Regions from separate parts of the Homo sapiens genome. Here region 1 is linked to region 2. Evidence: fine-mapped expression QTL. A gene starts in region 2. The other region holds a variant in brackets. All regions are shown on one strand. Distances are from middle to middle.

What was found. PIP is the estimated chance that this variant, and not a neighbour inherited with it, causes the effect.
Region 1: its variant is fine-mapped to the expression of PDCD4 in subcutaneous fat (GTEx, PIP above 0.99).

Annotation. Positions count from the first base shown.
Region 1 is chr10:110,774,933-110,791,405 of GRCh38, reverse strand. RBM20 (RNA binding motif protein 20) reads right to left here. Exons shown (of 14, transcript NM_001134363.3): 2 at 9,522-10,605; 3 at 7,979-8,040; 4 at 6,974-7,065; 5 at 6,517-6,614. Among named protein-coding and RNA genes, the nearest start is that of PDCD4-AS1, 88 kb to the left of the region's middle. RefSeq lists an enhancer at 15,724-16,473. The variant T/G (reference allele first, on the strand shown) is at 7,101.
Region 2 is chr10:110,864,262-110,880,734 of GRCh38, reverse strand. It overlaps PDCD4 (programmed cell death 4), which reads right to left and starts at 8,807. Exons shown (of 12, transcript NM_014456.5): 1 at 8,717-8,807; 2 at 4,665-4,769. The coding sequence starts at 4,707. PDCD4-AS1 (PDCD4 antisense RNA 1) reads left to right here and starts at 9,831. Exons shown (of 1, transcript NR_026932.1): 1 at 9,831-11,845. LOC124902500 (a long non-coding RNA gene) reads right to left here. Exons shown (of 2, transcript XR_007062288.1): 2 at 14,287-14,561. RefSeq lists silencers at 8,055-8,254, 8,465-8,614, 8,645-8,694, 12,947-13,016 and enhancers at 9,699-10,309, 13,137-13,186, 15,588-15,967.

The DNA of each region.
Region 1 (16,473 bases), 89 kb after region 2:
TCTCTCAAACTGCCTCCTAGAGCTGCAAAGTGTAGATTCCATCTTCAGTAAACGATTTCTGTGCTCCAGCCTGATCTGTCTCAGATGTGATCTAATGTTATCTGGCACAGAGTCTGTGGGCCTCTGCTGGTTTTGTTCTAAACATGCCTAAGAGCAGATATGGCAAATATTTATCTCTCATGATGTTGATTTATAACCTGTTATGCAGAGAGCAAGATGTTGATTTTGAACCTATCATGCAGATAGCAAATGGTTGCAAATTCCGTAGCTATGGATCTTGGCTTAACTTGGAGGGTAGACACAGTTGCCTTTATTGATGCTTTCAAATATTTTATAGAGCATATTAGCTCTGACTCAGAGTGAATTTACTTTTACTGGTAAATCCATAGGATTGCCTACGGATCTTGGACGATTCACCTGTTTAGCAGCTTCAACATCCCTGGAAACTGTAGAGTCACAAAACGTTAAAATTGGGAGGTCATCTGGTCCACGCTGTATATGAGGACACTGAAGCCTCAGAGAAGTTAAGGATCTTAATCTGTGGCCAATTAAACAGTGGCAGATTTGTGATTAAAACTCAGGTGTCACTGAAAAAAAACCTATCAATCGCAGACTTGATAAATTAAGGTAAATACAAAAATGAAGTTACACAATAAGATAGGAACTATTTACGTTCTGATGTGGAAAGATGTCTAGAAATCGATTTAAATATATATTGAAAGCTTATGTTAAGTGAAAAAAACAAATTGTGTAACAGATTGTATGACGTTATCTGGTTTGTGCCCAAAAAATTACTTTTACTAATGAAACATGTACACATACACTAGCTAGAGAGATATATACTTATAACAAAAGCATTTAACTTCTGTTTTCTCTGCAAAGTTGACTTTTCTTTTATATTTCTGTTACTGCTAAGATTGTTTACACAATGTTCACACTGCTTTTCCAACAAGAAAAAGTAAGATTTGTAAAAAGAACAAATTCCAAAACAAAACCTACCCAGGTCTCCTGTCTCCTCCTCTTTGCTCTCTTTGAAAAAGCACAAGGTGGCCCTTGCTGGAGGGACAGGAGCAATGACAGAGCTGGAATGGTGGGGAGGCGGCTGGTAGTATATGCCACATCAATTACTAGTCCTCATGCTCAAAGAAGTCAGGAGACCAGAGCGCTCTAAGCCATGCATTCAGAGGGCCAGGGCAGACAGATGGTGTTCCAGAAACAGCCAGTAATCAGAGTTGCAGCCTGTGACTTACACCTCTGGCCTTCCACAGACATTTCTATTTTCCTGAGCCTCCATTTCCTTATTTATACAAGTTCCCCAATGTGCAGGGTCTTGGCGAGAAATAAATAATAAAAACGATGTGTATCATCCCAGGTCAGGGTGGCCCATCTGTGACACTGGCACTAAATAAACTCCAAGATGGTTGTGAAAACTGCAAGGTGGCTTTACAGGGACAGACACAGAGAAAGTGCACCTCGGGCAGGTACACAAAAACTACTAACAGGCTGAGAAAGCCCCAAGGCCCCTTCCAGAAACCTGATTACTCTGTTTATGACGACTCAGTCAGCCAAGGAGAAAGTGCCTGGCCTCAAATGGCAGGAGCTTAAGTGAAAGTGAACACCTATCTCTGGGGACCCTAGAGTGGGATGGGAGGGGCTGAGGACAGACACAAATCACCCTACCAACAGCAAACACAGCATACAACTGTCAGTGCAGTGTCCCGTCTCTGTCAAATATAAACACGCGAGCCTGGGCAACATGGCGACACCCTGTCTCTCCAAAAATTAGCTGAGTCTGGTGGCACATGCCTGTAGTCCCAGTTACTTGGAGGCTAAGGTAGGAGGATCGCTTGAGCCCAGGAGGTGGAGATTACAGTAAGCCATGATCATGCCACTGCACTCCAGCCTGGGTGACACAGCGAGACCCTGTCTCGATAAATAAATAAATAAATAACAATAAAAAGGAAAAGAAAAGAAAATGAGAAAAAAAAAACCTAAACAAAAATAAATAAACAAACAAGGCAACGAAACACTCAGACTCCAACACAGGTGGGAGAAGTTTAAATGCAGCCAAGTCTGTCCCCAGAAGGGCTTGGTGGCAGTGGCAGATGGTCTTTGCGGTCCTTTTAGATTTTGTGGCAGTTCGGATATAATCTGAAGGCTCATTTCCAGAGCTCCGTGTCACTTTGGTCTTCTCTTGCTTAAAAACAGGGAGCTTTAGAGGCAGTAACTGCTCTTCGCTCCACAGACATTAGTGATATGATCAGACAGTGGCAGGATCCTGGCTGTTCCTGGTTTTACTCAAAAAAAAGTGTTTCTGAAAAGATGCATGTAAATGGAATCAGACATACAAAGTGCTGGCGCAGGACCAGACCTCACTTGTGGAGGAAAATGGGATCTCTGTGAGGGCTGAAAGGGAGACAACCGGGGAATTTCATTCCCCTCAGTATTTCTTTTCTGTTTGCATTTTCACAATAAGCATAAGTTTTGTAAGCAGAAAAACATTAGAAATGTATATGCAAAAACAACTCACTGGGCATTCATTGGAAACTGGAAAAATATCCTTTGGCAACAGAGTAATCACCCCTTATCTTTGGGGTGATATCTTTGGAGGTCAGTGTTTGTAGGCAGAAAGAAAGTCAATAGTTTCTCTGAGGGACTCTTCTGCTACTTAAAGGAGACTTGCAAAGTATTTTTCAAGAGTGGATTAATCATTTCTCCATTTCTCAGCTTGTCTTCAAATGTCAATGTTCTCGCATTTCAGGTTTTCCTCAAGACAGATACACCTGCATTCAATTCCATATGCTGGCAATGGCAAACCGGGGGACCAGCGTCTGACAGAAGGATGTGAATGAACATCAAGCCACTGACAATGTAGGGGTTGGCTGGGGCAGGCTTTGTCCTTGTCCCTCAGATAGGCTTGAGGAGGCTCATGTGACCAGCAAGATGTCACAGAGGTTATAATGATAAAACCAGACAAATGCTGACTCTCCCCTTCCACTGGGTCTGTAGAAAAGGCCTCCAAACATCTGAGTTCATCTTGGCAGATGCTGTCAGGGTGCAGAAGAATGTGGATACCAGGTGTGGCTGGCCTCTTCATCTTGCTCCATGGGTGGCCAAGGCCAGAGAAGTCCCTGTCACCTGCAACGCAGCCTCAGAACCTCCCAAGCGGCTTGTGGGGTAGGGAGAGGGGGAGGTGAGAGGGGCTTACTAAAGAGGAGGATCACAGCAAGGAAGAGACCCCTCAGATCCTCGCAGAGAGGCTGCAGGGCTTAGTGGTTACAAATGAGGCTTCCAGAGCTAGGCTGCCTAGGTTCAAATCCCACCACCTCCATTTACCAGCTATGTGGCCTCATATAAGGTACTAAGCTTCTCTAGGCCTCAGTTTCCCAACTGTACAATAAGGATAATAATAGTATCCACCTCATGGGGTTGTCTAGAGGACTAAATGAGCTAATACAAAACAAAAATGCTAAGAACATATTGAGTACTATATAAATGTTGGCTGTTGTTTTTATTATCATCCTACAATGACTGGGGCTCTCTGTCCCCTCCTAGCTCCCAAAATGTTAGCTCTCTGTCCCCTCCTAGCTCCTCGCAGAGAGCTGTCCCCTAGGTCTCTGTCCCCTCCTAGCTCCTAGCAAAATGTTTCCTGCGTTGCTTCTCACCAGGCTCAAGCCAGATAAACTCCCCATCTCTAGGTGTTCGGAGGAAGTGGCACTCAGAGCTTCGAGGAATTAATTAGAATCAACACACAAATCATCAGATAGCTTGTGCTTGCCCACTGGTACGTAATTTAAAAGTACATCCATGGGAACCTCAAAACATCTCTAAGGTGGAGCAAGTGTGACCCTGGGTATTACTAGACAGATTTGTGTAAGGGGAACACTGATACCAAGACTCGGACAAAATCCTATGGCCAGCAGACAGAGCCAGCCTTAGACAGCATGGGTTTCCCCCCGACTCTTCACAGCCAAAATGGGTTAAAAGCGCTCGTTACTCAAGAACAGCCATGGTTACTTCATATGTACTTGACGGTTCCCAAATCATTGTCCCTGATATTATCTCATCTGATCCTCACAAGGGCAGGACAATACTGGATCTATCCCAAGCCTTGCTCCCACTGTCTGGCGCTGGCCACTGAACCAGAAGCCTGGGCTGCAGAGCTGCATGGGATGTTCTGAGATTCGAGGAATAATCAAAACAATAAATTACACAAGCTGGATGGAAATCCAGTTGTTTACTTTATCTTCCAAAGGCATTATTGTTCCCACTTAAGGAAACAGAGCCTCAGAGAAGTAAAGTGACTTGCCTGGAGACACACAGCAAGTGGCTCCCAAAGTAGGACTTGAACTTAGGTCCCTAGAGCCAAGTCCATAGGAAAGGGTCTCTGGCTCAATGGGCAGCGCTGGAGGGTGGGGAAGAGGCCTGGGACAGACTGCAGAATGTCCTGCCTGTGTCTCTCCTCTCCCCATCCACCCCCCTTTATGGAGGGGCTCAGTTAATGCCATCTCTTCCCCGTACCCAGACCCCAGGTTGGAGTCAATTTACAAGCCCTGCCCCCTGCCCACCTGACACTCAATCCAGCCTCCCCCATCGTGGTCACAGTTCCTCCCCTTCAGTGCCTGGAGTGGGGTCTCAGGGCAGGGTTGTGAGCACAGAGGTGCCTCCATGGCCCACACCCCCATCAGGACACAAGGTCATGTTACCAGGAATCTGACCTCAGAGGACAGGCCTCACTGAATCTAGCCATTGCAGTCTCCTGGGACTGACCCGAAGCTGCCATTGACCTGGGCATGGCTCTGAGCGAGCAGAGTGCAGAGAGGGAAACCACAAAATTCTCTTTCACCAAAATGTGGGCTTCCAGACAGGGGCTCTCTCGAAGCGCTTCTCCTATTCAACATCACAGATCAACACACACAAATAAACAGAAGCCTGGGCTCAGGCAGGCCTCACGTCTCATCATGAACCACCTCGCTTTTCCGCTTACTCACTCCTCAGAGCCTGAGAGCTGCACTTCACAGCTTACTGGCCTGATGCTTTGCAATGCCAACACGTAGAGGGGACAGCACGTGGAGACATGCTCTTGTGAGCTTGTGTTCACTCGCAGGAGAAGAGAGAAAGAGGCTGCAGCAACTCACACCACAAAAGCACAGGCACAGGCTAAGGCACACAAACAGGTGCCCTCCAGCAGGGTTCAGACAAATGCATTTGTTTTACAGTCAGTTTTCCTCCCACTCCCCTTTCTCCTGCCCAGAGGAGAAGAAGAGGTCAGATGGGGGTGTAGGGTGGTGGCACAAAACAACTGAAACCCCAGAGAGAAGAGGAGCTGTCACCGTTGGTGAAAAAGGAGAGATGAAGCTTAGGAGCTTTGGAGGACGAAAATGTATGTTGCAGAGACAGCAAAACTAAAAACAAACAAAAACATCATACAGCACAAACCAGTTCCTCAAGGGGCCAACAAATGCTACTGGTGCGTAGTCCTTACTTTCACACACTTTCTGGTTCAAGCTTCAAAATTACCCTCTCATAGGAAATAATCTACTTCCATAAAACATTAAATAGTCTTAAAAAAACATAAAAAGCTCCAACTTTTTTTTTTCTAAGCCAGCGCTGAATGCTAGAAAGTCCAGGAATGCCTTGAATTTTAAGGATTTATGTCTGCTTCTTAAGTCATGTGTTTCAATACTAGATGAACTGGATTAAACAGCTCTTCACTTCTGTCTGGGGTTGTTTTTCTGAATGACACAAAGCCAGGTCAGCACCTCTAGGCCCAGATATAGCAGGTGATACTACAAACGCTTGACAACAACAATGACAATGGAGAAAATGGTTTTTTTGTTTGTTTGTTTTGAGACAGAGTCCCGGTCTGTCACCTGCGCTGGAGTGCAGTGGTGCGATCTCGGCTCACTGCAACCTTTGCCTCCCGGGTTCAAGTGATTCTCTTGCCTCAGCCTCCCAAGTAGCTGCGACTACAGGCATACACCATTCATGAACCAATCTATGGCCAGAAAGTGTGATGATCTCCTTGGCTGCCTGAGTCACATGCTCACCTCACTTCTGGTCATGTCATCTTGGAAACTAGAGAAGTGTAATTCCCAGAGTGGAAAATTGAAGGGTACCAGGTATAAATGGGTCTAGACCTCAAAAGCCAGCCAACTCTCCACTAAAAAAAGTGTTAACATCCTCCCAGCCTGTGGCATGTCAGGTGCATACTGAGCATGAAGAACACAGTGCTGGGGAAAGCAACAAGCATTTCAGGGTGACTGGCACACAGAGAGGTATTTGAGGCAGGGCATGGTGGCTCACACCTGTAATCCTAGCACTTTGGCCACCTGTAATTCCAGCACTTTGGTTGACCGAGGCAGGAAGATCACTTGGGACCAGGAGTTAGTTCAAGGCTGCAGTGAGATATGATTGCACCATTGCATTCCAGCCTGGCTGTCTCAAATAAACAAACAAATAAATAAACTAATAATCATTTTCATTAATTTCTAGAGAAAATGTTTCCGTACTCACAGTTGTCCCCACAGAAGCCAAAGGAAATGTGGGGCTTGACTGAGTGAATGACCTTGCTGGAATGGGCACGTATGATGTTCCAAGATTTGAGGCATAATCTAAATGATGAATTACACAAAGTCAGTGAAAACCCAGAATGTAACATCAAAAGTCATTATTAGGACATAAGCAGGCATAGAAAACTGAACCTTTCCCCTTCACATATTATTAGTGATTGGCATGATTGTACCTCTGGACATGCTGATAATCAGCAAAGCTTTACGTCTCAAGTATCTCAGAGAATACTGATGGGCCCAGACAGCAGGCCCAATGCATTTTAGTGTCTTGGGATCTGTTTGCTTTCTACATCCGTGAGAAGGGGACATCAGGGAAGTCCTGGTTATTAAAGACAGGACATAATGTGCCTGTGGGTAGCCCACTTCTGCTTCAAGCTGCTGACCTGTAGGGCCTTGCTCACCTTCATTCCCAGCAGGGTTATAAACAGCTGTGCTGTTGGGAGAAGCACACAATGTTCCCTCTGCCGAACCAAGTATACACCGGATGCCAGCACTGGAGAGGGCGAGAAAGGGAAACCGGCTCCTTAA[T/G]AAGTTAAACAAAGAATTAGCATGTGACCCAGAAATTCCACTCGTAGGTGCAGACCCCCAAATAGTTGAAAACAGGTGTTCAAACAAAAACTGTCCCCAAACCTTCCTAGCAGCCCTATTCACAATAGTCAAAAGGTGGAAACAATCCAAATGTCCATCAAAAGATGAATGGATAAACAAGAATGTGATATATACATGCAATAGAATATTGTTCAGTCATAGAAAGGTTGTACATATTACAACATGGATGGATGTACCTTGAAAATGTTATGCTAAGTAAAAAAGAAAAAGCCAGTCACCAAAGGCCACATATCATATGATTCCATTTACAGAAAAGTACAGAACAGGCAAATCCGTAGAGACAGAAGGCAGATTGGTGGTTGCCAGGGGCTGGCTTAGGGGGAATAGGGAGTGATTACTTAATGAGTATGAGGTTTCCTTTTGGAGTAATGAAAATATTCCGGAACTAGAGAGTGGTAACATTTGCACAATGTCGTGAATGTGCTAAATGCCACTGAATTGTATACTTCAAAGTATTTTCAAAGTATTTAAAATAGTAAGCCCTATGTGAACTTGACTACAATGAAAAAAATGAAAGCCAGAAAAGGGAGGCACACGCCCACGCACACACGCACTTCCGGCCTCTGCCTGGTGTTTTCTGCCTAGCATTTACCACCAGGGATGCTGTAATTTTCTTGTTCATTTTGTTTATCATCTCCCTGGCCCCTGTGAAGCACAAGCTCCTTGAGGGCAGGAACTTTGCCTGTTCTGGTCTCTGCTATTGCCCCAGGACTCAAAACAGCGTGTGACACACAGTAAATGCTCAGTGAATATGTGTTGAGCCTACGCATGAGCCTGTCCTCCTGAACAGCACTTACTTTTCAGAGAAGACCAGGCATTTCTGAGCGTGCAGCTTCCCTTTCACATGCAGCTCCCAGTCCTAGGTCAGAAGGAAAGAAAAGTGACCAAAGTAGAACTGAGTCCATGGGAAGGCAAAGGATGAGCACAGAGACACTGGTCAGGCAGGGAGCACAGAGCGCCCAGAGGCTGGACCACCCCTGCAGACACATCCCTCCACCCTTCCTCTCTCCCTCCCAGGCTCCTCCCACTGTTCCTGCCTCCCCATCCAGCCTTTGCTCCATCAGCTCCTCATCCATACATCTCATGCCCATCTTGAACAGGAGCCCAGACTCACAAATTGGATTCCCTCTACCCCTCTCAATGGACCCTTGCCCCCACCACCTACCTCCCACCTCCCACCCCTTCTCCTTTCCCCCAGGAAGACCCCACCTATTTCATATCCAGTTGGGAGAATCTGGCAGGTAGACTCACAGTGACTTACAAAGCCTTAGAAAAGGTTCATGAGAGACAAAATCCTTGAGCACCTCCCCGTGTCAGCTAGTCCCCTCCCAAGACTAGAGGTCAGAGGGCATGTCCTATCTGGGTCACAGGGATGCACTTGGATGGTGTGACCCAAACAGAGGTGAATGACATGCTGCAGTGTGACTCACACTCTGCAAGGACATTATTATGCTTTTGGACAGGATGAGAGATGGGAGGCAGGACAGCCCAGTGTTTAAATGGTGCAGGCTCTGAAAGGGTCAGGGCCACATTTGAATCTCCACTCTGCCACTTTCAAGCTGGGGAGGTGGCGGGGAGAAGGGGCTGAGTAAGTCATCTCATCTCTCTGGGCCTCAGTTTTCTCATCTGTAAAATGAAAATCATAATAATATCTACCTCATAAGAGTTACTGCTGGCACACAGAAAGGGTTTAATATATGGTATTTGTTATAATTGTTATTGCTTCAAAATATTTCACTGCATCTGCAATACATTTTTTGGGGGGACATTATACTATCATATACCTCTGTTTGCAGGAACTCAAAGCATTTCCCAACCACCGGGAAGGTGTCATGAGACTCTACCTCCATTTTGCTGATGGGGAAGCTGAGGCTCTCTATAATAATTTGTCTAGGTCCCAAGGGGGAATTAATCTGTTTCCCCTGATCCAAAATTCTGCTTTTTTTCTTTTCTAACTCACTACAATATGGGTACTCAAGGGGCAGTAGATTCTAGGCATACTACGGGGGAGAAGCCCTCCACGAGAAGGCAGGAAACTCCTGAGCCCCTTCTCTCTGCAACCCAGGTGGGGTCCTTTGCTCCCCTACTCAGCCTCAGCTTTCTCATCTAGAAAAAGTGTGTAAGAATTTCTGACTCACCTTCAAGCAAGGGACTGGTCCTGATACATTTCTGAAATTCCTATGGGTCCTAATACCTGTGATTTTAGTCAAGAATACTGATGGCAAAATTCTGTTACCCCAATGCAACAGTTCCTTGCCCATTGGCAGCGTGAGTTGGGTCATGGGGAAAGGCCTGCCCAGGCTTCTAGCTGTGGCTCCCAGCCTGTCTTGGACAACTCACCTTCAAATCAAACACCTTCTTGTCACAGATGCTACAGATATGCGGCAAGTGGAGGGGGGCCACACCGTGAAAGTCGTTCAGCTCATGAGCCTGCAGGGGCCGCACAGATAGCAACGCCTGGTCCTCCTTGGCCCTCCGCCCAGCACCGATAAAACCCTGTTTGCTGTTGTTAAGCCGACCCCCGAAGGAAGGAGGTGTCCTGTCTGAGGTTGGTTCCTCGGGGTCGTACAGCTCATAGGGCTGGTTGTGGGGTGGAGGCCACATGGGACCTGCTGTGAGATCAGGCTTGCTTTGGCCCGAGAATCCATGGGGGCTCTCCCATTGGCTGTTTGTGCCCTGCAGCAGTGGCCCGACCTCACTTTTCAGGCCCCCAGCCTGCTCAGCTGGAAATCCGCTGGCCACATGTGAACCTTGGGAGTTGGGTCCGTAAAAATCTTTGGAAAAGGCAGCTTGACCATCCTGCCCTGTGTGGCTGTAGTGCCCTTCATAGGTCACACTGCCCGAGGTTGAGGCCGAGGATGGCAGGAAGCCAGGCTGACCATCTGTTTCAGGGCCATATGTCTGGCCAGAGCTGGCTTTGCCATACTCATAGAATCCTGCTGTAGCTGGAGCAGGCCCAGTCTTGCCAATGCCCAAGATGACTGCTGGCTGGCCAGGGGTCTGAGGCATTACCCCAGTGAAAGGATGCATCACCATGGCACTGGGTGGCTGGTTGGGAAGGTTCATGGAGGGTCCGGGGCCTCGTGTCTGGCTGGGGGGTGAAAAGGCAATTGCATTAGAGGGAAACCGGGTACTGGGTATGGCTGCAGCATGTTGGGGAACCCCAGCATGGCCGTGGGGGCCAGTGATCACAGACGGATGCCTCAGTTGATTGAAGAGAGGCTGGGACATGGCCACTTTGGAGAGGACTTGGTTCAGGACTGTGGCGGCTGCAGTGTTGTTGGTGACAGCTGTCTGTGCCAGCTTCAGCCGGTGGAGGGTGAGCTGGGCCTGCAGTTGAGCCAGCTGGAGACTGGCAGGTGAAGGAAGCAGAGGGTTCGGGTTACTGACCGAGAATGGGTTCTTGTCCAGGAGCTTGGCGGCACTGTGGGAAGACAGAGGTCTAGATGCACAGCTGGTTTTCAATGAGGGGGGCAAGGGGCTGTTCTTTGTTATCTGTGGTCCCCCCTCCCACATAAACAAGACCTTCCCACACTGGTCCCACATACAAGTGAATCTGCAAAAACCTGTGCTCACACATACACATTAAAAAAAAAAAAAAAAACTCCAATGGAAAAATTATATGACAGAACGTTCAATCTCACTAGTAAGTAGAAACATAAACTAAAACCATTCAAAACAAATATTTGCCTAGCAAAATAGCAATTTTTTAAAATGGCACTCCGTGTTGGAGAGAGAGTAGAATAGGCACAATGTCAATGATAATCAACGCATACAGCTTTGTTAAAAGATAGTCTAACAAAATGCATTTATTATAGCCATATTCTTTGACCCTGGAATTCAATTATATAAATCAAAACTGAGAAAATGAGCTCAAATGCAGACAAAATTTGATACCCAAAGATGCTTAATACTATACTATTTAAGAGTCCAAAGTTGAAAATTACAAATATCCAACAATAGCGAGATGGGATTTGAACTGAGGAAATTATGATACACCAACATAATAAAATATTAAGTAACCATTACTATTGGTGTTCAAATTTCTACTTTATTATGTAACATTTAGGACATTCAAAAAAGAGTACACAGCACCAAGCTTAAGACAGAGAGCATTCCAATACGATAAATCTCCCTTGGTTACGTGCTCCCCCCACCTCACCCTTCCCCGTGATTGCCAATGGTAAACATTATCTTGAATTTGCCAAAGTCTCTGTTACAAAAAAACAAAAACAAAACCACTTTAATGACATGAGAAAATCTATATGCTCTAATGTTAAGTGAAAAAGGCAGGCTTAACAATTGCCTACAGAGTGAATCGTGTTTACATTTGTGCCAAACACATTTTCATCCTTGTCCTCATTTCACATCCAAAAGTAACATGAATTGTCTTCCTGTCTGAATATAGGCACAAACAAATTCAGCGTCTCCTATACTCTCACAACACGAACCACTTCTGACACTAGATGTGTGGGAGGTTTTCTCCACACACCAAGCAAGCAACCAGTTCTGCAGTGGACACCAGCTGGGTGTCTGCCAATTCAGTTCTGACACTACCTGGGGAAAGCGTCAGATCCCACAGGTTGATGGCTCAGCCCCACAAGACTGTCCCCCCACTTTGGATGTCAATCACAAGCCCCAGGTTGTTTTACTCATGCTTCTGACCAACTGGCTGTAAATCAGAATTAGACTAATTTGCTAGAGAGGCTCCCAGAACTGAGGGAGATGCTTAGTTTTACTGGTTTATTAGAAAGGATATATGACAAAGGATGCCAATGAACACCAGATGGAAGAGGTGCATGGGGCAAAGTGTTTGGGAAGGGGTACAGAGCTCCCACATCCTCTCGGGCACCCCCCTCTCCAGGAACCTCCACATGTCCCAGTCCTTTCTGGGTTTTTACGGAGGTTTCATTGCACAGGCATGTTTGATTAAATCATTGGCCATTGGTGATCAACTCTACTTTCAGCCCCATTCTCCTTCCCTGAGGTTAGGGGTGAGGCTGAAAGTCCCAACCCTTCCATCCTGCTGTGGTCTTTCCAGTAACCAGACCCCATCCTAAAGATACCTAAGGGGCTGCCAGACATTTGTCAGCTTATTAGCATACAAAAAGATATTTATCCGATTCCAAAGACTTTTGGAGTTTTATGCTAGGAAACCTGAGGAAGACCAAATCTCACAATATCACAGTTCCCTTCAACTGAGCTCTCAAACCTAACTAGTATAAGGAATAACCAAAAAATTACAAGTAAAAAAATCTGAATTTGAGGTAGGGGACAATAGCAGACTCTCACCGAATCTTACTGCAGAAAGGGTGTCCGTCTGACATGTGTCTTTCATGTGACCTATATTGGTTGGTTATAGTGGTTTCTGGACCAAAAATCAGTGTGCATGGTCTGGAAACTGGAAAGACTTTCCCAGAACATCTGGGATATGTGGTTACCACAGGCAGGGAGGGAATCTTTGGTTAAGACCACATTTTCCAGGTTTTAAATTCCCCTCTGAAAAGTGGGTGTCATCAGGAAATATGTTCAGGATGTTGATGAACTGGAATTCTGGGACATTTGAATGGGAAGAAGGGGACTGGAAAACTGGAAATTGGAGTTGCCATAAACAATGCATGCTGTACAATAAGCATGCTTAGGCAGTACAGGGTAGACACTGCACAACTGGGACACCTTAGTCTCCACTGTCACAGGTTCTGTACAGTAAAAATCCAATGATAATGGAACAAAAACGAGAGAGGCTGGGAGCTAGCTCAGCTGAGGAGGAAAAGGGAGACATAGCAAGTGACATGGGTTGCCACACTGTCTTGTTGGAAGGGAGTTCCCAGAACATCAGGCACACCCACATTTAAATGTAAGTACAAAGCACATTTGAGAGCCAGATAAAATGCCTTTGTTATTCTTTCCCATTTGCATGAAAAATCAAAAATTGCCTATAAGTTGTTAAAAAGACACCACCTTCCCCAGCCAGCAGCCCTGCTATGCTCCAAGGGCAGAACAGGCTGGCTGCATTTTAAAATATGGGGGAAGAGGGCACTGAAAGTTAAAGGTAGTTACAGCCCTGTTCTCCTTTGGGGAGCCGGGCTGGTTGCAAACAAGCCTTGGGGGTCCCTGGGTGACCCAGCACAAATTCAACAGCAGCAGAATGGGGAGCGACCAATGTCTATGTAGGCAAGAATACGGAAGGAAGAGGAGAATGGATGGTCAAGAGTCTGATGATAGATTTTGACTTGTGTAGTATTAAGTAGCTGAGCTTTAGAAAAGCAATTAAGCTTAACTCAAAACCGTGGCCACACAGGGCCAACTCTTCCTCCCAGGTTTGTCCATCATACAGCCTGTTCTTGCTAACAAGGCGATAATGAGGTGCCAAGTTGGTTTCCATGACCAGAGTAAGACAAGGTTGGTTTTGTTTTTCCCAGAGAAGTCAGCTCTATTTTCTAAAATTGCATTCTGGGCAGGAGGGAGCTCTTAGTAGAGATTCCCCTTTGCCACTGAAAGGACACGTGAGGAAGGGCTTTCCAACTAGGAAAGCCAGCCATGCTGGGTATTTGCAGGTCAGCCATGGGAAACCTGTCCTTTTCAGAGTATGGCCCAGGTTACAGACGTTAACCCATTCAGATTCCTCAAAAAATAAGAAAACTAACCAGGTTTTCTTCTTAATTTTTGCTTTGACTAGGAAATTTTCATCATTCCCAACTTTAGTCAACCTTGAGTAGAAGTGATTTCACATGAATCATCAGAGCTGAGCACCTGCTTTCATCCAAACACCCTAGACAAAGAAGAAAAAACACATCATACTATTTTTAAAGCCCTAAAATTCTTAGCCTGCAATAGTTAATAACCTGAAATTGAGGTGCATATAGTAGTGATCATATTTCTGAACCAAAAATTGGGGTGCATGATCTGACACCCCTGGAAGCTGGAACTGATGTCTCCTGCTGTCTTCCCACTCCTTAGTTTGTCACTTTTATATCACTCAGCACATCCTGTGCCTTGGGTTAAAAATAATTGCGTGCGTGCCTTTCTACTCCACCAGACATAAGTTCCACAAGAGAAAGGAGTGTGTCTTGGAGAATCTTGTATTTCCTCAGCACACTGCCTCCCACTTTATGGGCACAAAGTAATTGCCGTGAACAAAATGAAGAAGGAAGATAAGGGGTATGGCTCATCAGAATCTGGTGGCTTTGAGGCAATATGGACACCTCTTTTATGAGTACCCAATTCTGTGGAGAAAAACCCACAAACAGCTCAAAAAGGACAATCTAAATACACCCAAGAAGCAAATAAAACTAAACCTACAAGCAGGTACAAAGTCACCTTCCTAGGTCACTATCTACAATTTCCCACTCCAATGCAGGAGCTTCAGTACACTCTTTCTCTGTCTAAGTTCAGGTTTTTAAATTGAGTGGATAATCCCTGCAGTAGGCTGAATAATAAAAATGTTCACATTCTAACCCACAGAGGCTGTGAATATGTTATCTTACATGGTAAAGGGGACTTTGCAGACATGATTGAATTAAAGATCTTGATTATCTGAATTTCTGAATTTAATTTGGTATGCCCAATGTAATCACAAGAGTCCTTCTAAGACGGAAGCAGGAGGATCAGAGTCAGCGAGAAGATATAAGGATGGAAACAGAAGTCAGAGAGGAGAGAAGATGCTTTGCTGCTGGCTTTGAAGATGGAGGAAGGGGCCATGAGCCAAAGAAATGCAGGAAGCCTCTTAGAAACTAGAAAAGACCAGGAAACAGATTGTCCCTTAGAGCCTCCAGAAGGAACTAACACCTTGACCGTAGTCCAGTGAGGCTGGTTTTGGACTTATGGCCTCCAGAACTGTAAGATAATACATGTATGTTATTATAAGCCATTAAATTTGTGGCAATTTGTTACAGCAGCAATAGAAAACCAACACAATTCCCAAGACAATTAGATGCAAAAGTGGCTTCCACTAGAGAGGCGGTGGTAGGTGTAGGGGCTGACTGGACCTTGCTGGTATGAATTGATCCCCCCAGAGTACAGACCATCTGACCAAACATCCAAAGACCCTCTGGGAATGTAGTCAGGGGCCAATTCTGCACAAATAGGGGCCCAAGCAACGTGTCTCAGACCTGGCCAGTCCAAGAACCACATCCCTCTGGCAACAGTGATTGGCTCATGGGGGAACACTCTCGGATACTTTGTTAGAGCTATCAGGCATGATTCTCTGTCATGCCATGGTTGCTAAATTGTTGTTAAGCCATCACTTAATGACAGCCTGCTTGAGAATAAAGCCAACTCAGAAGATGCTGGCCTGAAGACAGAGGTACAGGCAGCTCCTTGATGACTTCCTAGGAATGCCTTGAGCCAGCTTCTCCTGAATCCACCCTGTACTTTGCTGGACATGAAGCAATGCATTTCCTTTATTTGCTTAAAGAAAGCCAACCTACGTAAACCACGGGCATTTAACCATCTTTTAAAGACGGTTCCTGTCTGTGGCCCACATTGACTTGAAGGTTCCTGGTCACCCTCCAGTTTCCTCTGCAGGAGTGGACTGACTGTGAGGACCCAGTAGTTGGAGCTACAGGGTCACTATCATCATCATAGGGAGAAAAGAGGATTAGAAGATAAGGAGTGGGCAACTGCTGAGAGAGGAGGCAGCAGGCATGGGGATGGGATTTGAGGGATCCAAGAGAGTCTTAACATCTGGTTGGTGAACCAGGACTTAAAGGGCTGTGGAATAACAAGGACACAGCTGAAGTGCAGTAGAGTGAATGTGCGTAGATGTATCAGCAGGCTCTCTCCTGGTAATGTCCAGCCATCCAGAAGCAGGAGCCAAGAACCACAGCCCAGAGCATGGTAGTGCCTAAACTCATGCACCGGCCACATCTGCAATAAGCACAATATCTTCCAAGATAACCAGTTCAGGAATTTAAATTCACTTCCAGTGCAACTGGCTGAGTGGTGAATGCGCCATTTCTTCTTTTGTGCTAAAATATAGAAAGTAATCGAGGTGAGAGGGCTGATGACCAGGCAAGAAAATATTTTCTAGGTATGACCACACTATAAAGGTGTGGCCAAATAAATGCAACGCTGAAGGTCAGATCTTTAGAGCAGAGTTGAGAATTTATGATCTTTCCATGTCTTTATGACACATTCTGCTAGTGTCAACACAGGAGAGACTTAAAGCAAAGAGAGGATTAATGTCAACTTAACTAACAAGAACTACATTATAGTTTTCCTTCCTTCTGAACCATTTTTCTTTAAAACATTCCTTATTTATGGTATTTTGGTGGGAATTTCTTTTTAATAT
Region 2 (16,473 bases):
TTGAAGACAGATAAGGAAACTAAGGCTGAGAATGTTTAAATGATTTGCCAAACGTCCCATAACTAGGTATAAACACTTAAGAACTATTAGTAATCCAAAAGAGAATGAAAGGCATTTAGCAAATAATCGCATATGATTGTTGAGCTGAACTGCTGATGCTTTACTGCCTCAAGACAAAGTTTGCTTTCAAGAAAAGCCAACATCTCAAAGTCCTAATTCATCTCCCTAAACTTTTCTCCTATTACTTACCATCCTGTAAATCTTCCAGCCTATATAAAATTGATTCTTCTGAAAGAGATCAACATACTGGAGTTCCCAGTAGAATGTCGCCCTCACTGTTATTTTCAGTTATCAAAATCCTTTAGGATATAGCCCAAGTCTTACTCCCTGCATTAAAACTTCCCTTACAACTCTAGGTACAGGAACACTAATTGCTCACATACTATTCATTCAACACGTCATGGAAATCACTTTCTTTTTATATAGCAGTCTTTTTCTTCCAACTAAGTCATAAGCTTCAAAGGAGAAACCACAACTAGACTGTATGTCCTTCTTTGTATCCCCATCACCTAGCAGAGTGTCCTTCATACTCAAATTCCATGGAGATCAAGTGGAGGCACTTGGCTTTGCCCTGAAAGCTCTTTAAGTCAGAAAGGCTACTGAATTAGCTACCACTGGGCCACAGTTTTGTTCATTATTGTTAACGCAAATCAGAGCTGAATCACTCAAATCATTTTCTATATGCCTAAAGATAATTATAACATGTCAGGTCTATGTGCATGGGCTTTAATATGTTTTAAGACATGTTGAAACCAAAAATTTTCACCAACCTATAAAAAGCATACATGTGTTTAAATCTTTACAATTCTTGACATACTTAGGAAGGTAGGAATGTTTTGTTTTAAACAAAATCATCAATTAGAGCCAAATTATTTCACTAGTCTCATAAGTAGTCTCCCTGCCTCCAGTCTTCAAACTATACTGAATGAAGACTGATTTTCTCAAGCATGCCCTCACTGAAGATCCTTTAAAAGTAGTCCCATTATGTCACAAAAAATGTAAACTTTTTTTTTTTTTTTTTTGAGACAGCGTGTCGCTCTGTCACCCAGGCTGGAGTGCAGTGGTGCAATCTCAGCTCACTGCAAGCTCTGCCTCCCGGGTTCACGCCATTCTCCTGCCCCAGCTGGGACTACAGATGCCTGCCACTACGCCTGGCTAATTTTTTTGTGTTTTTAGTACAGATGGGGTCACCGTGTTAGCCAGGATGGTCTTGATCTCCTGACCTCGTGATCCACCTACGTCGGCCTCCCAAAGTGCTGGGATTACAGGCGTGAGCCACCGCACCCAGCCAAAATGTAAACTCTTTACCTTGTAACTTAAGGTCCTTTATGATCTTGCCCCTGCTTACCTCACCAGAATCACTGCTAACTACTCCCACACTCAAATTGTCAGAGCTTAAGTTAGATATCATAGGGAAGAGATGGGAGGGATTCATTTGGCAGAAGAATACTGAGTATATTACAAAAAGAGAAAGTATAAAGTAGGAAACCGCTAAGAAAATGCTTCAGTAATTCAGTCACAAGCTAACTGGTAAAGAGCAAGGGTAGTAACTGTGGGATAAATAATAATGTTACACTTTTAAAGAAAATAATGAAGGACTTTTAAGCAGAATGTATCTAGGATTAAAGAGAAGTCAAACAATGCCTTAAAAGTTTTCAAACTGGTAAGAAGCCGGTGTTAGGATGGTGTGTTTGGGACATCATCATAACCATCAGTAGTAATTATAGTCTTAGTGGAAGTAGTCGTAGTACTGTTTCTTTCATCATTACCATTACTATTGTCATCTATTAGATACCAGGTTCCACACTACCTGGTACCTATTAGATTCCACACTACCTGGTACCTATTAGCTAAGGCACTTTACATATGTGGTCTATAAGCTTCAAGAGCTCTAGAAAGAAACTGTTTATCCTCATTTTACAGAAGGAATGTGTTTCACAAGAAGTTACATATCTAGAAAGGATTATGGCTAGAATTCAAACCCACATTTTTAATCCCATATAACTACAGAAAATACAAAACTAGAATACAGCAGAGTATTGACAGCTAAAGAGACGAACAAGGGCGTGAATGTAAAGAGAGATAAACAAAAATGATTAAGTGGAAGGGGACAGAAAGATCAGGATCACATAAATTAGATGACATTTTCGTGTAAGAGTGGATGGTTGAGAAAAACATTAAACATCTACCTGTAACATAGTGCTTTCATCATTGTGCCATTAAGGTGAACCACAAAACTGGTCCAGAAGACACAGGAGTCAGAACTATAATAAAATGTCTTAAACTGTCCCTTGGAGTATTCAATTTAAATACATCTATTTCCCATAATCGAGTTTTCTTTTCTTCAACAATTTTAACATCCTTTCAAGTATGTTTGTGTCTCTGCAGCAGTAAACATTCTCTCAGTATAATTTATATATTTGACCTTATCATTTTTAACCCATGTTTGTATTAATTGCTTTATATTTTGTTACTCATACTCACCTAACTGTTGGAGTTCCATAACCCCTATTGAGCTGACTTTAAGAAAACCAAAATTAAAATGATAAGCTGAGTACAGAATGTGATTGACTTCAAAATTGTTTCCTACTGTGTACTAATTCCCTCTTTCTGAATTCTGATATCTCAATAGTAACCACTCCAATTGTATATGACCACAGCACCAGAAAATCACATTTTCAATTACTGGTGTCCAATGAGTGGCATAATTAGAATAACATTACCACACTTTCATGTATTACATACCTAGTATGTGCTTCACAGACTTAACACACATATACAATATCTCACTAAATCCTAATTATAAATCTATACAGAGGGTATTTATATCCCAATTTTATACATGAAAAAACTGAAGGTCAGAATAACCTACTTCCTCCAAGTAAAAGAGTAAGAGTGTGACTTGGACTATTTGCTATGTGAAGAATTTACTACAAAGAGGGTCTATCTTAGGCCTATTCAAATATTGAAGAACAAGTCTTTTATTTTAAAGCAGTGCTGGACACAAGCACCAAGAACAGGGTTAGAACTAGGTCTTATTGTAGTTAGGAAACAAAAAGTACACATTTTAAAGCTGTGTTTCTATTTCTAATAGAAATAGAATGCAAGCCATATAAGAAATTTTAAATTTTCCAGTAGCCACATTAAAAAGTAAAAACAGGTGAAATTAATTTAAATATATTTTATTTAATCTAATATAACCATATCATCTCAACATGCAAGCAATATAACAAATTATTGAGATAGTTGACCTTCATCTCAACTCAGAGTAGCCACATTTCAAGTACTCAACAAACACATGTGGCTAAGCACAGTGGTGCACACGCCTGTAATCCAGCTACTGAGGAGGCTGAAGAGGGAGGATCACTTGAGCCCAGGAGTAATAACCACATGTAGCTAGTGGTCACCATACTGGACAGTGCAGAAAAGAAGCAATTACCTATATGTAAAATATATTCTAAACTGTATTACCATCCCCATCTCAATTAAGTAGGTACATATTATCCATTTATAACCCTAAAGCATACTCATACAGCTATTGTATACAGCAGCACAGAAATGATCATTAATTACATAAATTTTTTTCAATTTTTTACCATACTTTAAAAAGATCTGTAAATAAACAATGGTAAAGAAGCTTCAAATTCAACATGTTTGTTCAGATCAAAGAAAACTATGTACATTGTAAACAATAGTGAGTTAAGTCACTGAGGAAAGAAAGATGTAGTATTTAGTTACGAAATACACTTAAAATGACAGAAAATAGCTTTCAATATTAATAAAATTATAAGACAAAGAATTATCCAAAGTATACCAATATGAACTGTTCTCACTATTCAGATATTACACAATTCTAATTAACTTTTTGGGAGATTATTTTTAAAACTATAAATACATTTTAAATTATCTTGAGTTACTCACATTTGGTCATCTATTCCACAAAACTGTTCATTTTTATGATAATAACATGCTATTGAAGCACCATGGAGAATTAGGGAAAATACCCTAGGTAATTTAGAATATAAAAATTATTTGTTAGGAAAGATACCAAAGATACCAGTAAGTTTATATTACAGAAATCACTAACTAGCCCATGTGAAAATAAGCAGGCTCACTATTCTTCTCTATTCTGTACTATATAACAGAGAATAGGAATATGTGGAATGTGAAAGGATAGGCAGAAAAATAGGACATGTAATGAATTTCCATGAAAATAAAAATCACAAACTTGACTTTAAAAATAATATAGCCTGTTTTCTTACAGCATGAATAAAAGAGTATTTAAAGATAGTTTTTCTATCATGTTTTTATAAAATATGGAATGGTCTGAAGCTTCCTCACAACATAGTCAAGCTTCAAGATATTTCAGCCTAGGCAACATAGTGAAATCCTATCTCTACAAAAAATAAAAAATTAGCCTGGTGTGGTGGCACACACCTGTTGTCCCAGCTGCTGAGGAGGCTGAGATAGGGGAGGATCTCTTAAGCCCAGGAAAGTCAAAACTGCAGTGAGCCATGATCACACCACTGCACTCCAGCCTGGGTGACAGAGCAAGATCCTGTCTCAAAACGAAGAAAAAAAGAAAAAAGGATATCCTTACTTACCTGCAGGGTTTACATTCAGTATCTGCTCATTTTCTACATCCATTTTCCCTTAATTTCGCTTGCACTGATTAAACAAATTACCTAATGGAAATCTTCCTTCAGAATCTGTTTTTTTAAAAGAAAAAAAGAAAGCTTCAAGATCTTTTAAACTGATGTAATTAAGCTGAATTAAACTTACTTAAGCACACTGTAAAAACAAACGACAACAACAAAAAACACACAATTCCATTAAATAAAACAGTTCACTTTACTTTCAAAGACAACTTACCCTAATTAACATTTGGTTCCAATCTTTTTGATAAATTTATCAAAGTCAAAAAAAAAAATCCCAGATTTCAGCATGTGCCAAAGCACCCCTTTAATTGGAATTAAAAGATATGTTTGTGATACATGTTTACGTCAAGTTAAAGAAATACACACATCCAAATCTTTTAGGAATACCAAGCCTCAAAATTAATCTGATATACATACATAGGAATATAAATACTGGATAGTTCCCTACCAATGAATTATGAGAACTACTCCAAAATAAAAACAACACAGTTTTAGTTAATAAAGAATATCACATGACTGTGTTATTTTTCACATTACGGCATATCTGAAAGGCAGATATATCTGCCACTCATTACCTAGGTCTCTATAATTACTAGAATAAGACTTTGGGAGAAACTTTTAAAATCAGCTTTTTTGATAATATTATTTATATGAGAAATCCTTTTTTGATAATATTATTTATATGAGAAATCCATTTTTTAAAAATCTGATCATTTCAGAAAGGAGTAAGTACAACGACATAAGCATTTCAGTATTTTAGGCCTCAGTTTCAAAATGGCTTAAAAATTATTAATACTGGAAGGTTTGATGAAATCAGTTACCTTTTAGACAATTAACTTAGTGATACAGATCCAATAATGTTATATGAAAGAAATATCAAAATAGTTTTCAAAAAATATATTACCAGAAAGTGCAACCAAATTAAGATTTCAGAATCTCTCTAGAAGTATTTTTTAAATAGTGGTTTAGAGTACTTAAGTGTATGTTTAAGTCACATAGGTTGGATATAAGTCCTTCTGGTCATTTACAATCAGGTTGCTAGCAGTGTGCTCTTCAGAGATATAAAATGCACAAATTAGTGAAAATGCCTAATAAATTAATTACAGAAAAGCACATTTTTTCCTATATAACTTAACCTACTGTTAGATGTCATTTTAGGATAACAATGATATATACAGAGCCTCCTGGGACTCAAAGGTGAAACTGACTTTTAAATTCCTCATTATGTACTACTATTTGCTAACATAAGTTTATAGCCCTTTTCTTCAGAAAACGGTATTATTTTGTGAAACAAAAACAAATGGACCTTATGTTAAAATTATAGGCTTCTTACTATGGTATAATCCTCAGACTAATATGCTATCATATTGCTTGGGAACTTAAGAAAATGGTGAGATCATTCTCTAATTCTGTTAAGAATAAATTAATATATGTGAATCTTTATAATCACTTTTCACTATAACTCCCGCCAACTTTAGATATGAAAAAAAAATCTTAAAAATATGTAGAGATTCATATAAATATATGAACAAAAATGGTTTGCAAATCTAAACACTCAGCATCCTTCATGGCTGAAAAGGCTACATTCTGTTTTAATTCCATGCATGAAATACATATAGGAAAGGAATAATGTCATATGATACGTGTTTCAGTTTTTTAGAGTTCCATTACAAAGTCTTTTTCATTCTTGATGAAAGTATAACTTTTGAGAGAATACTTTCTGCAGAACCTAATAAGCGAAATGATTATAATTGATGTTCATAAAGCCCTTTACAATTCAAAAAGAATTGTACATGTATTATTTAATGTACCTTACAGAAAAACCTTCGGGTAGGTATTCCACCTTACACACAACTAAACAGATTCAGAGAGGGTAGGTGATATGTCCAAGGACAGACAGCTGCTTAGTGGAACAGCCAGGATGAGAATCCAGACCTTCCAAATCCAGTACTGTTTGCACAAGTTCAATCCAAAATTTTAATATCCCACAGGAAGATTCTTTTCAAGGGTTAACAGAAGCTTCTTAAAACAGACTTCTGCTGTTCAAACTTTTAAATGCTGTTTTCCAAACACTAAAAATAATTATTTTAAACTATTATACAGAAGGCATTCCGTCAGACAAAACTGTCAGGAAATGACTATCATCTCTTTTATTAAGATAAAAACAAAGTTATCTTAATAAAAAAAATAGTCCTGTGTCTTTAGGCAATGATAACCCGATCAGGAACTCAAGTCATATTTGACAGCAACAAACACGTTTTAAGAGTTTAGATAAGACATGTTCCACGTTTTTACGCTCTTTAAAGTAGTAGGATTTTTTCCAATTTATTTAACAACCCTTAATTGGCCCAAACAAGAAAATATAAAGCAAAAAATCCAAACGCTATTTCCTTCATACTAACCTACAAAAATGAATTTTCGATGAGAAAACTATACATACAAGTTAGAAGAAAATGAAGGCTGACATTAAACACTGTTCTTTTCTCCAGTGTGTTACACGAAATATACAATCAGAAGTATTCAACTGCCAAGACATTCCCTAAGAGACAGACCCTCCACTCCCCCACGAAATATATACATATGTATTTCCTGAAATATACCTCATAAATTGCTCTGGCATTTTGGGGAGTCAAGCTTTGGCCATTTATTAACTAGGATTACTTGTATTCATTCTTCGGCTACGAACGGCTAATTAGCAGCTTAAAACCAGCTAAAAGCATTCTACTACAGTAATGCAAAAGCAAGCACTACAGATAATATTCAAGCGGCATTTATTTTTGCAGTCCTAATATTTTTTCCTTTCACATTAGTACCACAGAAAAAGCCAGTCAATTATAATTCAAATACACTTACTGAGATATTAACGTATTCAATAAGCCTATAATGAAGGAATATTAAGGGCATAAATACCAGTAACTCCTTGCTTAAAAAGCACTTGGTGGTTTCCCAAAAAAGTCACGTTAAGAATATCAAGATTGTAACAATTAAAGTAAAAATACAAGTTAAAAACAGGGGAAACCCTTTTTTCCCCGACACCTAATCGCATTTCTGATCGTTTTCATCATTTGTAGACACTACACAGTTGCTGGCTACGTAGCGAGTTCTCACAAGGGGGAGGGGGGCGAAATTGACGTCTGCAGACAGTTTTGAAGCTCTTGCAAAACCCCATGTACGTTACAGCATCAAACTGACAAATGGAGAAGATGGCATGCGTTTCACAGAAAGGGGGCTCCCTTCCCGGCTTTGTTTTCTCTGGGAGATTTTATTTTACCTAAACTAAAAAAAAGAGACCCTTTGCCGGAAGACGGGCGCGACGAAGTTCGCGCAGGGATGGGGCGGCGGGCACGTGTTCGCCTCCCAGCGCCCCCGGCGAGGATAGCGCGCGGCCCCTCCCCACAGCGGCCGGGCCTGTTCTCCCGCAGCGGGCTCAGGCTAGGACCCCCGAAGTCCCAGCCCGGGTCGGCCCCCGGAAGGGGCTGGGCCGGGGCCGAGGCCGGGGCTCCGGGTTCACGAAGGACAGGGGGCCGCATCTTCAGAGGATTCCCAGGGAGGGCAGGGGGCGGGGAGGGCGCGAATCTTCCTCACAGGATTTCAGTCCAGCCGGAAACACGCCTTCCAATCCCGGCCCCCGAATTCAACCTCCGCCAGAGGGGGAGGAGGGCTGAGGGGGACCTTCAAGGGCGAGCGCCTCGCGCGCCCCTCTCAGTGGGGAGATGGCTCCGGGAGGGGGCGGGCCCGCGCCGACACGCTCCAGGCTGGGCTCAGAAAGAGGGAACCAGGCCGGATGCCCGCAGTCCGGGGCGTTGGGGAGGGCGCGGCTGGACCTGCGGGGCTACAAGAAGGCAGCCGGACCCCCGCACCGCAGGCCCGGACCTGACAGGACCGCGACCCCCACGCCTCCGCCCCCGCCCCCTCCCATCTTGCGGCTGCCTCCGAGGAGGGATGGGGGAGAGGGCGCAGTCTTCCCGAGCGTGTGAGCCGCGCCTACTGGTACTGACCCCTCGGGCCCCCGCCGCTGCTCGCCCAGGTTCCTGGTCAGCCGGCCCCGACCCCGCTCTTCTGTCTCTGCCGCCGCCTCGGAGAGTCTCTGGCCCTTCTCGCTCTGTTTGTTTTTGTTTTCTTCTACCCAGTAACACGGGGGCGAGAGGGCGGCGCTTATTGGCCGAGGCCGGGTGGTCGGCTGGCCAATCGTGGCGGCGGAGCCGGAGCTGAGGAGGAAAAGGGAGAGGAGTGAAACGTGGAAAGTTGGGGAGGGGCGCGGGAGGGCGCATGCGCATGTGGCTCCTGGGACTGGCTGGAGCGGGAGTTGAGCGGGAAGTCGGGGTGGGGGTATGTTGGGAGGCGTGGCGGGATGGGAGCGTTGGGAAAAGGGCAGTGCTGGGGGATGGGGACGAGGATGAAGCTTCCTCGACCCAGCTCACCCATTCTCCTCACAGGGCGTTCTGCAAACTCGGCTGAAGCAAAGGTTTTGAGCTTCCTGATGGTCCCTGCCTCCATTTCTAGAAACTGCTTAGGCGAACACTCCAAGTGATCAGCCTGTCCGATTCCTCCTCCCTCTGGCCGCTGCTTTCTCTGTGGCTTCCAGTTTCTGGAGATCCCATGCTAAGAAGTTTCTCTCAGCGAATCCCCTCAAACCTTTGAGATGGAAATAATTCCCATTTCACAGATATAAAGCAGGCTCCAAAACTCTTTGAAGTTCCTTTGCTAATCATGACTAGCCAAGCCTCTGGCGTTCAAACGCACAAATTCCGGCCTCCAGTGCTGGGGTTCTCAGCCATGGCTACAATTTCTGTATTGAAACTTCCACCTCCCCTCGCTGTTCTCTGTGACTTTTCCTCTTGGCTGCATTGGTTTTGGCTGGTACTATCCTTACTCTTTCAAGGTCACGGTCCCCTGAGGGTGATAACCAGAACCTTAGGCTTCCTTTGTGTTCCCAGGCGGGGACTTAGCCACTGCCTCTGATCAGATTTTTCAGTTGTCTGATGGGCAGCACCGAATGATTGCTTGTGCTCTCCAGAACCCAACTGCCTCATCCCGCACAGGCCAGCGCTTTCCCTTGGCTGCCCAGTCACCCTGCCTGGGAATCATCTCTAATGCTACTATTTCTCTGCACACACACGCACACACACACACACAAACCTTCACTGGCTTCCCATTGCCTCTCTTGAGTGTCAGCGCCTCGGTCGGTCATTCAAGGCTCCGTGATGTGACTTCAAGACTTTCAGGCTGTGTCTCCACACATCTCCCCATATGCTTCCTCACCCCCTGGTAGTTCTTTATATATCACCTTGAAATGTCTCTCTTCTCATCTCCTATCTCCGCCTGATGCAATCCTTCTGTGCCTCATGGCCCTTCCTGGTAGTTTTTTATTTTGTTGTTGTTGTTGTTTTATTTAATTGAGGCAGGGGCTTGCCCTTTAGCCCAGGAGAATGCAGTGGCATGATCACAGCTCACTGCTGCCTCGACCTCCGTCAGCCTCCCTAGCTCAACGATCCTCTCACCTCAGCCTCCTGAGTAACTGGGACTACAGGCACAGCTCACTATGCCCAGCTAATTTTTGTATTTTCTGTACACACAGGGTTTCATCATGTTGTCCAGGCTGGTCTTGAACTCCTGGGCTCAAGCAATCAGCCCACCTCTGCCTCCCAAAGCGTTGAGATTACAAGCGTGAGCCACCATTCCTGGACCCTCGTAGTTTTTCTGGAGCCTCGTGATTTGATATGATCTTCCTGCCGCTGATTCCTCACAGTGTTGGCTTGCCACACCTCCAGGGGCACTGATCACATTCTACCTGGCATTATTTCATCTGAGTCCCTGTCCTAGCCCTTCTGCCCATTAGACTGTAACCTTGTTTAGGGAAAGACCTGTGTCTTACTCATCTGTGATTTTGTTGTTGTTGTTGTTTTGAGACAGGGTCTTGCCCTGTTGCCCAGGCTGGAGAGCAGTGGTGCAATCTTGGCTCACTGCAGCCTCAACCTGTTGGGGTCAAGCCATCCTCCCACCTCAGCTTTCCAAGTAGCTGAGACTACAGGCCTGTGCCACCACACCCAGCTAGTTTTTTGTATTTTTAGTAGAGATGGGGTTTTGCCATGTTGCCCAGGCTTCTCTTGAACTCCTGAGCTCAAGGGATCTGCCTGCCTCGGCCTCCCAAAGTGCTGGGATTACAGGCGTGAGCCACTGTGCCTGACCCACTCACCTGTCATTGTAGTACTTAAGATGCCTTGTTCATTTATTGTGCCTGTGCAATAAATACACCTTGATTTGAGTTTACAAAGATTCTCAGCAGTTGGTGGTCATCCTCATCTCCTGGGCGGGGGCCTCCTGGTGTGGCCAGTATCTGAATTAGTCTCATAACTCATGTTCACTTTTTAAAATCGGAGCTTCCCAGACCTCAGTTTTGTTTTGTTATTTTCCATTATCTGCAGCTGTCTCCTTTCCCCTCTCTCACCTATACTCTACTGATCAGTGACTGCTGGCTCCTTTGTTACCCATCCTTCTCTTTCTCCACATTTTTTCTCTTCTCATCCCTTTCAGTTCTGGACTGTTTCCTTCTTCCTCCCTGTCTTTCATTTAGTCATTCATTGAATGTACTTACTAAGCACATATAGCATAATCAGGCTGTGTTGGGTAGGCATCCCGAGTTCTATGAGATAAAGAAAGAATGGGATATGATTACCAATTTTAAGAAGCATCTAAAACAACCTGTTATGTTTTAGCAAATTGCCCCCAAAGGACCCATTAGGGAGGAAAACGTTCATGTCCTTTTTGCGTATCATCTCAAGCAGTACCCATGATGGCTGGGATCCCAGAACCCACCTTTGAGAATGCTGCCGTATTTGCGTGTGGTTGACAAGGTTGGGCCAGACACTCAGGAAATAGGGTTGTCGTCCTACCTCCCCCACTAACTTCCTGTAAGAACTTCAGCCCCTCTCAGGACCTTTTTCTTTACCAATAAAATTCAGAAATTGGGCTCAATCAGTAATTCCCAAGTTATTTTCCAAAGAACATGAATTTTGTGGAACTTTAATAGATATCATGCAAAAAAAAATGTGGGAGGGATTGTTCCATGGTCAAATGGTCTTGGAAATAACTCGTTTAAACAAAAATAAAACTGTTTCTTTACCCACAACTCTTCTCAGTGGTTTTTTGTTTGTTTGTTTGTTTTTTGAGATGAAGTTTTGCTCTTGTCGCCCAGTTTGGAGTGTAATGGCACTATTTTGACTCACTGCAACCTGTGCCTCCTGGATTCAAGTGATTCTCCTGCCTCAGCCTCCCCAGTAACTGGGATTATAGGCGCCTGCCACCACGCCTGGCTAATATTTATATTTGTAGTAGAGTTGAGGTTTCACCATGTTGGCCAGGCTGGTCTCGAACCCCTGATCTCAAGTGATCTGCCCTCCTCGGCCTCCCAAAGTGCTGGGGTTACAGGCATGAGCCACCGTGCCCAGCCTTCTCAGTGTTTTTAATAAGCTATGTGCCTTTAGTGTCTTGGGAGACCAAGGTAGGAAGATTAGTAATGTTTCCTACCTTGTTTAAACACAGAACCTTTTTTTCTCAAGATACCCCAGAAGCAGTGTTATTTAGAAACCAACTTGGGAAATATAGATGACAGCCACTGTCACCAACATTCCTTCCAGCTGTGTTGAACACTTAGTCACCTGTGCCTTTGCAGCTGAACATTTAACAAAAAAAATTTTTTTAAGAATAAGCTGAAAATGGAGAAGTATCCAAGTGCCAAGAATTTTTGCCTACCAAATCAATCCACAAATATTTTAGTGTGTGCCTGTTCTATGAAAAGCACAGTTGATTCAGCTGTGTTCTTGGTAAAAGGCATTATACTACTTTAGGGTAGGTAATATCTGAAGCCTAGGGCTGCCCGGGCTTCTGGGCCACAATGTATGTTTTCATTTCACGTTGTAATTGTCACAAACTAGGTTTCTGTTACCTGAATCCCTGTGCCTATGGGCTTATGTTAATTTAGCTATTAGATGACAGAAAAGGAGAGAGGCCTTCCCCTTAACTCACTCTATACAGAATAATGGAATTGCAACTTCCATTTCCCTTAAGAAAGATTCATTCCAAGAGCTTAGGAGAGGAAGGGAGATCACAGTTGCCCAGAACAAGACAGCTGCTCAGAGGTGGCAACAGAAACTCTGTGCTTTGTGAGTAGATAAACGTTACATACTTCATCTTCCCCGTACTCCTCAGGCTTAAGCAGTATTGAGATACTTGGAGGGGCGCAAAGAGTGTTTGGTTTTGTCAGGGGAGAGGGTGGGAGATAGTTCCTATTTTTCGCCTCTTAAGACAAGGTAGTGACCCTGTCCCTAACTAGCTGTGTTGCTTTGGGTGTTTCACTTCCTCTCCCTGAGTGAATTGAATGCTTCAATTTTCTGTGCTGTAAAAGAAGGAGGTGCCCATTGCAGGGAGTCCATAAGCAGCCATTCAGTTCTAACACCCTGGGATGCTGAGCAAGGTACTGAGTTGGTACCATGGGAGTCCTGGGAATGGAGAACAAGAGATAAGAAAGTTTGCTGGCCGGGTGTGGTAGCTCATGCCTGTAATCCCAGCACTTTAGGAGGCCAAGGTGGGCGGATCACTTGAGGCCAGGAGTTTGAGACCAGCCTGACCAACATGGTGAAACCCCATCTCTACTAAAAATACAAAAAAATTAGCTGGGCGTGGTGGTGCATGCCTGTAGTCCCAGCTATTCAGGAGACTGAGGCAGGAGAATCTCTTGAACCTAGGAGGCGAAGGTTGCAGTGAGCTGAGATCCCGCCACTGCACTCCAGCCTGGGTGACAGAGACAGACTCCACCTCAAAACAAACAAACAAAGGAGTTTGCCACTGTTGGCAGGAGAGGATTCCACCGGGTATGGACAGAGGGACTGTCAACCCAGGGGCTTTCTCCTAATGCAAAGCTCAGATAATATCACCTCCCTCCATCCCAAAGGCAAAGTGATGGCTGGTGTGGGTTTAGGAGCACTAATTAATTAATTTGGGTAAAGTACTTGAAAAAGCACAGTTGAAGGCAAAAGATAAGCACCTAGATTTACTATTAATGCCTTTGGAACTCTCCAAGGCCTTTTCATTCTTAGGGTAAAGCCTCATTTGAGAGTTCTGTTTCTTAATAAGAAATGGTCATGCCCCTAAATGAAATTGAGGAGAATTTGTCTTTCTGGGGGCTAAGGGTAGGTCTTAGCCCACTTCCTTCCTAAGAAATTTTAGATGCTGCTGTCATTTGCAGCAACTTCATCTACCTGAACTGACGCCTTGTCTCCTTTTGTCAAACCAAAGCCTGAATTTTGAGAATTTCTCTAAGGCAAAAATTGCACTTTAGCACAAATGGTAAAAGATATAAAACATGTTCTGAAGAAAGAGCTGCATAAAGAATTCTTATAATAATGATGATAGCTGACATTTGTGTTGGCCTAAGATTTACTGAGCACATGTGCATAGACTTTCACCACCTCCCTATGAAGTGGACAAGATTCTGTGCTTTAAACATGAGGGAAATAATGAACCTTGAGCAGGTCACTGGTAATCATGGAACTTTTATACTGAAAGGAAATTTGGGGATTCCCTAGTCCAAACCTTTTATTTTACAAATGGAGAAACAGATTCAGAGAAGTTAAGTGGGTCACCTAAAGCCACACAGCTAAGTTAGTAGCTGAGCCAGAAGTACATATGAGATCTCTGCCCAGAGTTGTAGGGAATGTGCAGACCAGGAATCCAGACCTTCTGGCACCCAGGCTGGGCTGGACTTTCCCTCACATGCCTCTTGATTGACAGTTAAATTTCTGGGTCCTAGAGGCTCCTGGTATCAGATGAATCCATCTCAGGGGCCTGAAAGTGGGGAAGAGGGAAAGGGTAGTAAGCATTGTACAACGTTTAGAAACCCTTCAAGGGGCATTTCTTGCATGTCTTTCCTGGGGTAAAAAGCAAGCACAGAGTAATGTGAAGCATAGTTCAAAAAATAGATGCAATATTTTACTGTGGTATGTACCAAGAAAAATTGAAAGACTACTAAGATTTTATTTCCTCAATTCAGGTTTCGAAAGGTTTTCTTAGTACATTTGTCTTTTATGGGGTTTCCCCCCCTCAAATCACTCCTACCACCTTAGAGATTTAGAAAAAAAGCTCAATTAACATTGAGGAACTCCAGCAAGAAATCTTTCCCGCACCATATCCCCCGCCAAAACACAAATTTTACCACATCTCCTATACTTGGCCTAAGTTCTAAGCCTTTGCAAACTCCAGTTCATTAGACTTTTGCAAACACAGACCATTCCACCCGATGCTTTTCAGCATTTATTATAACTGCCACGCCCTGCATTTAATAGTGTTGAGTCAGGGTAGAGAAGTGCTCCTCCAGTTGTATCTCTCGGGGCTTTATTCGCATTCTTCTGGAACACTGGATCCTGGGCTAGGCTTCACATGTCTCAGAATTAATCCTCTTTTCTCCAGCTGCCCTGAGTGCACATAGCTGCCATTATGCCCCCCTCCCCTCTATGTCTGCAGTGTCGGCTTGCTTCCCAGACAAGGAGGTAGGGCCCAGAAAGCCTGGTATAGAAATGAGGAACTTTTCATTCTGGAAAATAAATGAAATGAATGATCTTGGGTTGTGATTAAGACAGCCAAATCTATAAGGAAGTACAAACAGAGAAGGCTAGAGAAGGGCAGGGGTAAGGCAGGGCTGAGGAAGGGGGATGGCTGAAGAGACAAATGCTGGGTAGAAGTTAATTAATGGAACTAATCGAACCTCTATTTATTTTGAGCAAAAATAAATAAATAAAAGTAGTGGCAAGAGAAGAACAAGGGAAACCCAAGAAAGATGTTGCTTTTTGTTATTAAATGTTTATAATAAAAATGAAGCTAGCCCCGTAGAAGTTCAGAGAAAAGAATAAAGTCCCAGGAGATGACCTGGTGAGGACAACTTGCTCAGATAACAAATGAGCAAACCAAGGCCCAGACAGAAGTGGTGCGGCTCCTGGCAAGACACAGACAGAGCCATAGGACCTCATTCCACGGCCAACAGCTGCCTTCCTTTTCCATATGGTTCTCTGCATGTGTCTTGTCCTTCTGCCCTGTTTTTTTTTTCTTTCCAAAAAGCTAGGAGGACAGCATTCAGAAAGAGAAACTAGGACTGGCATTTGTAAACAACAGCTCCAGGAAGTCCCCAAGTACCGCAGTTGAAGTAACATGATTGACAGTCATTCAGCGCAATTGACAAAGCCAACATCAAAACAGGAACTAGCAAGCAACAGGCCACCCTCCAAGAACCAAGAGTTCAAAAGAAAGAAAAAAAATAACTGCTCAGGGGACAACTGAGAGTCTTACTATCGTTTCTTGTGTTACATAGGTCTATGATATGTTTTGTTTTCAGAGAGCTCTCTTTGAGGACAGTAAATCTAGCCCAGTGATTTACTGGTTGGCTTCAGAGGGTGCAAGAACACCCTAAAATTTTATGCAAGTTTTATTATGAATATGCATTTGATGCCACAATGGGTCAATAACTTTTTCCCATAAGGCCCCCAAAAGAATCATGTCCCAGAAAAGATCAAGAACATCTGGAATATGTTTCTACATTTATGTTATTACATGTTATTACATTTGGGCCCATTTTCAGACTGGGTGTTTGTATGGTAAATGCATCTGATAGCAATAACTAAAGCATACCCTGAGAATGAACTTGTATGACAAATGCACCTGAATGTGTGTTCTGAGCTAGGGAATCTGGAAGTGGCCAACCAGGAGA